2 separate regions of the Homo sapiens genome follow, and region 2 is linked to region 1. The links come from fine-mapping of genetic effects on gene expression. Tissue or cell type: ileum. Region 1 holds a variant in brackets; the other region holds the start of a gene. All regions are shown on one strand. Distances are between the middles of the regions.

Region 1 (5,000 bases):
GCCAGTCACAGTGGCTCATGCCTGTAATCCCACTAGCACTTTGGGAGGCAAAGGTGGGTGGATTGCTTGAGCCCAGGAGTTTAAAACCAGCCGGGCCAACATGGCAAAACGCCTTCTCTACAAAAAATACAACAACAACAAAATAGCCAGGTGTGGTGTGCACCTGTAGTCCCAGCTACTCGGGAGGCTGAGGTGGGAGGATGGCTTGAGCATAGGAGGCAGAGGTTGCAGTGAGTCGAAATTGTGCCACTGCACTCTAGCCTAGGCAACAGGAGCCAGACCTTGTCTCAAAAAAACAAACAAGGGCCAGGCATGCGGTGGCTCATGCCTGTAATCCCAGCATTTGGGGAGGCCAAGGCAGGTGGATCATGAGGTCAGGAGTTCGAGACCAGTCTGGTCAACATGGCGAAATCCTGTCTCTACTAAAAATACAAAAATTAGCCAGGTGTGGTGGCACACGCCTGTAATCCCAGCTACTCGGGAGGCCGAGGCAGAGAATTTCTTGAACTCGGAAGGCAGAGGTTTCAGTGAGCCACGATCACACCATTGCACTCCAGCATGGGTGACAGAACGAGACTCTGTCTCAAAAAAAAAAAAAAAAAAGAAGTTTTAATAAATAGTTGTCATTTGGATTGACCATCACATCACATAATAGTGGTTATAGTAGAAGTTTAGGAAATCCTGATCATAGACCCATTTAGGAAGAAGGCCCAAGGAATCAATGAACTAGTTCAATTGGTTTGCAGATTGCCCATAGCCTTTGAACTGGGTTTCAAATAAACTCTGCCTAGAAAGACTGACACTGAGCAAACCTTGGCTGGGCTATAACCATTCCCGCAAAGCTGGCTGCTTTGAACTTCTCCTCCTCCACTCCCCAATCTCCAAGGCAGCTCCCCAAAGTCCAAAACGAATGAGTCCCTGTGCAAAAGAAACATGACTTTTGCTCAAAGTTATGTCTTTCCCTCAATTATTTAAAAATAAATATGGATTTTAGGTGAAGTACTACGGTGAGAAGACATGATACTATTTCTTTGGATTGTTTCAATTCTCAAAACTTAATATGTTTAACAGGTCTCTCAACATTTTACAGCTATGTGTTTGCTGATTGGACTTGGAAGGGAGGGTAATGGGCCTAATAAAATGAAATACAGACTTAAACGGATTTGAGAAATTCAGGGTTGAGTTTAAGATTAAGACAAGAGGCCGGGCACGGTGGCTCTCCCCTGTAATCCCAGCCCTTTGGGAGGCTGAGGCAGGCGAATCACAAGTTCAGGAGTTCATGATCAGCCTGGCCAACATGGTGAAATCCCGCCTCTACTAAAAAGACAAAAATTAGCCGGGTGTGGTGGCGGGCGCCTGTAGTCCCAGCTACTCGGGAGGCTGAGGCAGGAGAATCGTTTGAACTCGGGAGGTAGAGGTTGCAGTGAGCCAAGATCGCGCCATTGCACTCCAGCCTGGGAGACAGGGCGAGACTCCATCTCAAAAAAAAAAAAAAAAAAAAAGACAAGAGCCAGAGGGACAGGGAAGGAACAAGAATCATATTCCCAGCTGTCATGAGCAGGTTTGGAGGAAAGAGAGCTATGCTGGGAGGAAGCCATGATGAACAGAGCAAACCATGGGAGGACAAGGACAGGAGAACGTAAGATTGGATCTGTTATCAGTTCAGAAAGTATTGGTTCAGCATCACCATGTGCCAGGCACGGAGCTAGGAACTGAGATACAAAGACGACTGAAATGCGATTTCCCTGTAAGAGGCTGGTGGACCTGCAGCCACTGCAGGAGAAGGAAGACAGACTAAAGGACGAGATCCGGGAGGAAAGACACAGAATCAGGAAAGTGGGATATACTGACTGCTATCAGAAAAGTGAGATTGGGCTGGGTGCGGTGGCTCACGCCTGTAATCCCAGCACTTTAGGAGGCCGAGGCAGGTGGATCACAAGGTCAGGAGTTTGAGACGAACCTGACCAACATGGTGAAACCCCGTCTCTACTAAAAATACAAAAAAAAAAATTAGCCTGGTGTGGTGACGTGCACCTGTAGTCTCAGCTACTCAGGAGGCTGAGGCAGGAGAATCACTTGAACCCGGGAGGCAGAGCTTGCAGTGAGCTGAGATCGCGCCACTGCACTCCAGCCTGGGGACAGAGCGAGACTCCGTCTCAAAAAAAAAAAAAAAAGTGAGATTGATGTGTTACTGGGAGCAAGAAAGAGGGGTCTCTAGCCCAGTAGGACTTTGACAAAAAGTGGGAACACAAGAGAAAATCAGTTGTGAAACTGGAGTGGGAATTTGCCAGGGAAGACAAAGATGGGAAGGGCATAAAGAGAGAAAATGCGTGAGAGAGAAAGCCAGAAGCTAGATCTTATGAAAGGCGCACCTTAAACCCTTCATCAGGATCACAGAGACTATAAATAATTGATTATCTAGCTTTATCCTAAATGCCTCTTTTTCCCTCAGCCGTTTCCATCATGGTTGATGTACAGCCCTTCACTCCTCCTGCACTCTGTATTCCTCTCATATCCACCACCAATTCCTTTGCTGCTGTTTAGTGAGAGGTGAGGGACACTCCAGCCCCAGCCCATGCCTGGCCTGGGCTGACCACGAAGAACGAATTTCCATCACTGCCTGGCAGCGGCCATGTTTGCAGATGCTCCAGCCCTGCAGATGGCCCTGGGAATGGTAGCAGAGCATGACCCCAGGCCCTGTGCACACATGCTAATGATTTGACTTTGCATATAGACAGCTATTCTAACATCAGGGCGCCTAATCTGCAGGATATGTTCAGTAAAT[A/G]TAAGCAGTGATGGCCACCAGCCTCCCTAGCGTCATTACTCTCACAATAAGTCCTTTCTCAGGCTGCTGCTGCTTTCTGAATCAAGGGCACAGGTGCATAAAAAGCAGTTGCCCCCATTTAATTAGAGGATGACATGAGTGTCACCAAGCTCCCTGCCTTGCTGCCTCTCATTCTCTTACGTGTCGTTCTGTCCTTGGCTCTGGTTAGCTGCTTTGCTCCTGTGCCCAGCTGCTCCTTTTCTTTTCTTTTCTTTTTCTTTTTTTTTTTTTTTTTTTCTCGAGATGGAGTTTTGCTCTTGTTGCCCAGGCTGGAGTGCAGTGGCACAATCTCGGCTCACGACAACCTCTGCCTCCTGGGTTCAAGCGATTCTCCTGCCTCAGCCTCCCAAGTAGCTGGGATTACAGGCATGTGCCACCATGCCTGGTTAATTTTTGTATTTTTAGTAGAGACAGGGTCTTTCTGTGTTGGTCAGGCTGGTCTTGAACTCCCAACCTCAGGAGATCCACCCAGCTTGGCCTCCCAAAGTGCTGGGATTACAGGTGTGAGCCACCGTGCCCGGCCAGCATTTCTTTTCTTGACTGTGTTTCCCTCTCTTTCCCTTTGTCTAATTCTTCCTCCCTTTTCACTTGGTCCCCCTTTCACTTTGTTCTCCTTCTCTATTTTCTAACTTCCCTGACCTCTTTGTTTGCCCTGAATTTCCATGTGTTTTCATCTTCCCACGGCTACTCCTTGCCCCTTTTCCTCATATTTCCTCCCCTCTTTTATTTTTAATCTCCCAAATGTCTGCTTAGATGCATCGCCCTTGCCCTTTGCCATCTTCCTCCTCCCCCAGCTCTTGCCTCCTGAGTCTGTGCAGTGGAACACAGGACTATCAGCTGTCCTCTGGCATATTTCATGTAGGCCTTTAGTTAATATTCTGTGTATCTCTGTGATCGATGCCTGATTGAAATGGGATTAATCTGCTCCTCTCCAGTAAGAATTATCATGAACTTAGCCTTATTCATCTTCTATTCTAATACAATCTATGGCCACTGAGATGATGGTAGCTGCAATTAATAAATACATGAAACACCAATGTGTTTATCTCTCTGCATGCTCTCGTCACGGGTTAGAGTGTGAAGGGCTGGTTTTTAATCCCCACAATTCTCCCAGATTTCATTTCTCTGATGTGAGTTGCTTTTTTATTCTTTCACTCTTTTTGCACAAGAGAATTTTGTTGTGCACATCCACTCTTCCTCTCTGGGTGCCTGCTAAATGCCAGAGGTGGGGCTGGCTTGGAAGAAGGGGTATACATTGCCCAGTATTTTTCGGTGTCTGCAGTAAGTGGAGTAATTGCATTTTCAGGATACCACCATTCTCCTCTGCCTTCTTATCATAACCATGATACAGGTAATCTCTTAGAGATTTAACCCTTGTGGAGGGAAGAACAAGGAATAGAAAACTAAAAAATTAACATGTTTCAAGAACCTATCCCATGCCAGAGCCTGTATCCTTGCAATCATCTTAAGAACTGGGGCCGGGTGCAGTGGCTTACGCCTGTAATCCCAACACTTTGGGAGGCCGAGGTGGTGGGATCACCTGAGGTCAGGAGTTTGAGACAAGCCTGGCCAACATGGTGAAACCCTGTCTCTACTAAAAATACAAAAATTAGCCGGGCATGGCGGCATACCCGTGTAATCCCAGCCACCCAGGAGGCTGAGGCAGGAGAATCGCTGGAACCTGGGAGGCAGAGGATGTAGTGAGCCGAGATCGTGCCACAGCACTCCAGCGTGGGTGACAGAGCAAGACTCCATCTCAAAAAAAAAAGAAAAGAAAAGAACTGGGTATCAGTATCTTTTCTTTAACAAATGAGCATAACTAAATCTGATACATAAATGAGCTCACCCATAGTTACACAGGTTGGAGAGGTGTAGCTGAGATTTGTACCCAGGGGGACAGCTGGTTCCAAGTACTGTCTTTGCACCAAACTTTGATATCCTATAGGGAGTTGTGAAGGTCTGTTTCCCTCCTTCCGTCCTTTTCTCCCTTCCTTCCTTCTTTCTTTCCTCCCACTTTCCTGGTTTGAGGATCCCAAACTGGTTTTGTGGTTTTATTCTGCCCTTATACACTCTGTTCTACTTTTGTACACTCAATTTTTGCCATACAATTTCTAGGTCTTTATATCAAAGTAAGTTACTCAGGTACAATTATAATTCCCATTTCATGAAAGGATCT
Region 2 (5,000 bases), 890 kb before region 1:
GTGACTCATGTCTGTAATCCCAGCACTTTGGGAGGCTGAGGCAGGTGGATCACCTGAGGTCGAGAGTTCAAGACCAGCTTGACCAACATGGAGAAACCCTGTCTCTACTAAAAATACAAAATTAGCTGGGTGTGGTGGCGCATGCCTGTAATCCCAGTTACTTGGGACACTGAGGCAGAAGAATCACTCAAACCTGGGAGGTAGAGGTTGCGGTGAGCCTAGATTGCGCCATTGCACTCCAGCCTGGGCAACAAGAGCAAAACTCCGTCTCAAAAAGAAAAAAAAAAAAAGATATTTAGAAGATGTATGGAACAATGGCCCCCTCCTCCAAATGGTTCAAATCAGAGCCTTGCTTATATGAAGACTGTAGGTTTTACAGGATTTAATACTTTTCTTTGCTTTTTTTTTTTCTTTTTTTTCTTTGCTTTTTTTTTTTTGAGATGGAGTCTCACTCTGTCGCCCAGACTGGAGTGCAGTGGCACGATCTCAGCACACTGCAACTTCTGCCTCCTGGGTTCCAGCGAGTCTCCTGCTTCAGCTTCCCTAGTAGCTGGGGACTACAGGCGCATGCCACCACGCCTGGCTAATTTTTGTATTTTTTGGTGGAGACGGGGTTTCACCATGTTGCTCAGGCTGATCTAGAACTCCTGACCTCAAGTGATCCACCCGCCTTGGCCTCCCAGAGTGCTGAGATTGCAGGCGTGAGCCACCTTGCCCAGCCAGGAGTTAATACTTTCTAGAAATATAAGTCACTGAATTAGCAGAACCTCAGAACTTAAGCCTGTTATTTTCCGGTCAAAGGTTTGCATTGAGTGTCTGGCTAGAAACTCATAAGGAATTGTTCAACTGATCTTGAGAGGCCTACTCTAGGTCCTCAAGAAAGTCCTCAGTTGGGCCATCTAACCAAAGGGAATACTGCAGAAAGACCTGTTTCCAGAAAGTTCGAAATTCACACACACATTACATTAGAACTCTGATCCTGCCTATTAATATTTTAGGAAAAAGCGCTTCCCAAGGGTTTGATTTTTAAGTTTCTCAGAAAATTAAGCAGGGAGGAGGGGTAAAGACATAAAACCGTGTGTTTTGTGCCGTTCCCCAATTCTTCCAAACGGAGGAAAGCCTGGAAGCGGCTCATACTCACCACCCACACCTCTGCATCTGGGTCATTTACCTGGAACGCCAGAATACCAAGGTGTTAGCAGACATCCTGTGCTGTTCCATTCCTTTTAAATTCATTTAAGCACATTTTTTATTAATTTGTTAAGTGCCAGACACTGCAATAGGCATCGAGGGTACAAAATCTGAACAGGATATAGTCCAGATGAGGACGGGTGAAGGGGTTTCTGGCTGACACAACAGATGTTTTTAACAGGCAGCCACACATTTTTGAAAAGCCTTCACGGGAGCTCTGGAGAGGACTCGCCAACCCAGAACGGGTATTTTAAGGGCCCTCCACCCCCACCAGTCTCAAGAAATGAGGGAAATGATTATGAAGGGGGTCCCCAAGCCGACTAAAAAGTTTAATGATGCTATAAAGGGTTTTGGTCGGCTTCGTCTCCTAGGCCCTGAGATATGTTCAGTGTCGTCCGCGGGCCGGACGTTAACGCAGGAGCCAGGGCCGCTTCTTCTGAGGTCCCCTGGGAAGTTCCACGCGCGGAACCAGCCCCTTCCAGGGTGTGAGCCCTGGTATGGGACTCGCTTCCATGAACACATCCGCGTCTCTTAGACGGGGGAGAAAGTGGGGGCTCCCCAAGCAGAAAGCCCAAGTCCCGTCCTCCCCACTAACTGTGCGCCCCTGCGACTCTGCCCGCTAGTCAGTTACACGGCCCGCTAGGCCAGGGGGCGGAGCTGGGAGCCGGGCGGGTCCCCCTCCCACCGCGGCCGCCTGACCTGCACCAAGGCCGCCAGCGCGAAGAAGGCGGCCATGAGTCCGTTGCAGGCCCGCCACAGCGCTGGCGCCATGGCTCGGAGAACACGGCGCGGGGCGGTGAGTCCTGCCACGTGCGGGGCGGTGAGTCCTGCCACGTACGGTCCGCCTTCCTCCTTGCGCGGAGGGACCGAGACCCCCGCCTCGGTTTCGGTGCCTTGGGGACACTGCCGTGGCCGTCGCTCCGCCCGGGGGCGGGGAGCGAAGGGCGTGGGTGTAGCCCCCACTCAGCGACCCATTCAGCCCGCCCCGAACGCCGCGGGGTGTAGGCGGCGCCGTCCTGGTTTCGCGGATGGGAAAGCGAGTCCCTCAGGGAGCGCAGGTCTCGGTGGTGGACGGAAGTCGAATTTGAACCCGTATAGGTTCAACTCCAAACCCTGTTTTCACTAAAGCTACCTTCCTCACAAAAAAAAAAAAAAAGAAGAAAGAAAAAAAAGAAGGAAAAAAGGAAGGAAGGCAGGCGGGAGGGGAGAGAGGAAGAAAGAGAAAGAAAGAAAAAGAAAGAAGGAAAGAAAGGGCTGGGCGCAGTGGCTCACGCCTGTAATCCCAGCACTGTGGGAGGCCGAGGTGGGCGGATCACCTGAGGTCAGGAGTTCGAAAGCAGCCTGGCCAACATGGTGAAACCCCGTATCTCTACTAAAAATACGAAAAAATTAGTCGGGCGTGGTGGCGGGAGCCTGTAATCCCAGCTACTCAGGAGGCTGAGGCAGGAGAATTGCTTGAACCCGGGCGGCGGAGGTTGCAGTGAGCCCAGATTGTGCCACTGCACTCCAGCCTGGGCAACAAAGCGAGACTCCTCAAAAAAAAAAGGATAAAAATTGTTTTTACAAAAATAAGAAAGAGAAAGAAAAAGAGATGTGTGTGTGTGTGTGTGTGTGTGTGTGTGTGTGTGTGTGTGTGTTCTGTTTAGTATTTATGCATTTCCTTCCAAAGCTCAGGAACTTTCAAATCCCTGTAAGCATTATGGTAATTTCTAGAGTGACGACAGTTATATTAACATCTTATACGGCTCACAGCTTTTCGGCAGACAGGCTCATTTATCTTCATGGGCTTTTATTATAAAAGATATTTACATATTATACATATTTACAATTCTCTCCCACCACCAAAACCAACAAAATTTCCAAAATTGCTCATGAATTTCTTATGAACCGAAGACACTGAAATATTCACTGTTCTCCCCTAGTCTGTCTGGTCTTTTTCTGTTTTGTAATTCGCCCTTCTGCTTAGTTCCTCCCCGGGCTCATTTACACATCCATAGGCCTCATTTCTGCTGTTCTAAAGAGTCTTTATCGCTTCAAATCAGGAGCTTCTGTGCCTGTCCTCTTTTCCTTTGAGCTAAATCTCCTAAAACTGTCTAGTTTTTTTTTTCTTTCCCTCTCAGTTTCATTCTTTTCACGAAACACTTATTTCAAGAACGTTGTCTGCTCTGTGCCTGGTGCTGGGACCGTGAAGGTCCCGTGCCGGGACTAGGCAGGGAGCCTGGCGGCTGGCGGGGGTGGGCACCCGTGTTTGCAGAGGTGGGGTGGGGACAGCGGGGACCAGCACTGGGTGGAGTTCCACAGCTAAATCAGCCCTGGGATTGGAAACAAGCGAAGACTATTCTCACTGTGCTTTTCCTTACATAAAAGAAAAAAATGAGAGCGAGAGTGCTAGGGGCTGACTTGCATTCCCCCTGCACCCCCAATTCATATGCTGAAGCCCTAACCCCCAGTGCCTCAAAATGGGACTGCATTTGCAGACAGGGACTTGACAGAGATGATTAAGTTAAAATGAGGTTATAGGGTGGACCCTAATCCAATATGACTAGTGTCCTGATACGAAGAGGGGACAGTTACAGAGGGAAGACCACATGGGCACACAGGGAGAAGACGGCCGTCTGCAAGCCAAGGGGAGAGGCCTCATGAGAAACCAACCCTACCAACATCCTGAATTTGGACTTCCAGCCTCCAGAACTGTGAGAAAATAAATTTCCGTTGTTTAAGCCACCTAGACTGTGGTACTTTGTTGGGACAGTCCTAGCAAATTAATACAGGGAATGATTATAATACCCACAAGGAAACAATGGCATGGAAGTGCTTTTAAGCTCTTGAATGCCATACAACCACCATGAAGTTTTATAGTTTTCACTGTTGTCTGGGACTTTCTTTTTTTATTTCTATTTTTTTGAGACAAAGTCTTGCTCTGTTGCCCAGGCTGGAGTGCAGTGGCACGATCTCAGCTCACTGCAACCTCTGCCTCCTGGGTTCAAGTGATTCTCCTGCCTCAGCCTCCAGAGTAGCTGGGACTACAGGCGCCCACCACCATGCTGGGCTAATTTTTGTATTTTTTTTAGTAGAGATGGAGTTTCACCATATTGGCCAGGCTGGTCTCGAATTCCTGACCTCATGATCTGCCTGCCTCGGCCTCCCACAGTGCTGGGATTACAGGCATGAGCCACTGCACCCGGCTGGGACTTTCAAAGTCACCTTAGTGAGCGTCTGTTGGTTTTGCCTTTGCAGGGTTCAGTCCCCTTTCTTCGAGGATCAGTGTCTTTAGTACTGTGGATTACCACATGCACTATGGGTGGATGTGGACTACAGGGTTGACCGTGCTCCCCTCCTTTTGGGGATAGGCAGGTGACTTTGGCCTGCCAGCTGACATATCCCATTCTGTTGACCACTGTGATTGGGTCTAGGATGGGTATAGGATCCAAATTGCCCAGATTCAATCCTAGGACCTATATGGGACTTAGGTTGTCAGTAAAGGACAACCTCAGTTGAACTGAATTTTGGATCATCAATGATGTGTTCCAAATATTTGCTAAATCTGGCAATCCTACTCACACTATTAAAGAGAAGCTTTCTTTGTGATGAATGTGTAGAGCTGGTAGAATGTGAGCCTGGAGCTGTCAGGAGAAAGCCTCACAGGGAGAAAGGCTTTCTGCAGGTGAAGTTTAAAAGCCTGGATCCAGCCATGCCTGAAAATGGAAGAATCTCACAACCAACAGAGTCTCTTCTTTACATAAGCCCGTGTGAATTGGGTTTTTGTAATTTGCAACAAAGAATGATGACTTGTAAAGTCATGATTCAAT

Evidence for each region. PIP is the estimated chance that this variant, and not a neighbour inherited with it, causes the effect.
Region 2: TMEM220 starts here. The variant in region 1 is fine-mapped to the expression of TMEM220 in ileum (GTEx, PIP 0.95).

What each region holds. Positions count from the first base shown.
Region 1 is chr17:11,619,927-11,624,926 of GRCh38, forward strand. The region is part of intron 6 of DNAH9 (dynein axonemal heavy chain 9); the gene reads left to right. Among named protein-coding and RNA genes, the nearest start is that of DNAH9, 24 kb to the left of the region's middle. The variant A/G (reference allele first, on the strand shown) is at 2,786.
Region 2 is chr17:10,727,890-10,732,889 of GRCh38, forward strand. It overlaps TMEM220 (transmembrane protein 220), which reads right to left and starts at 2,134. Exons shown (of 6, transcript NM_001004313.3): 1 at 1,891-2,134; 2 at 1,142-1,171. The coding sequence starts at 1,962. TMEM220-AS1 (TMEM220 antisense RNA 1) reads left to right here and starts at 1,888. Exons shown (of 4, transcript NR_073458.1): 1 at 1,888-2,011. RefSeq lists enhancers at 1,586-2,172, 2,173-2,759 and silencers at 1,773-1,942, 1,953-2,192.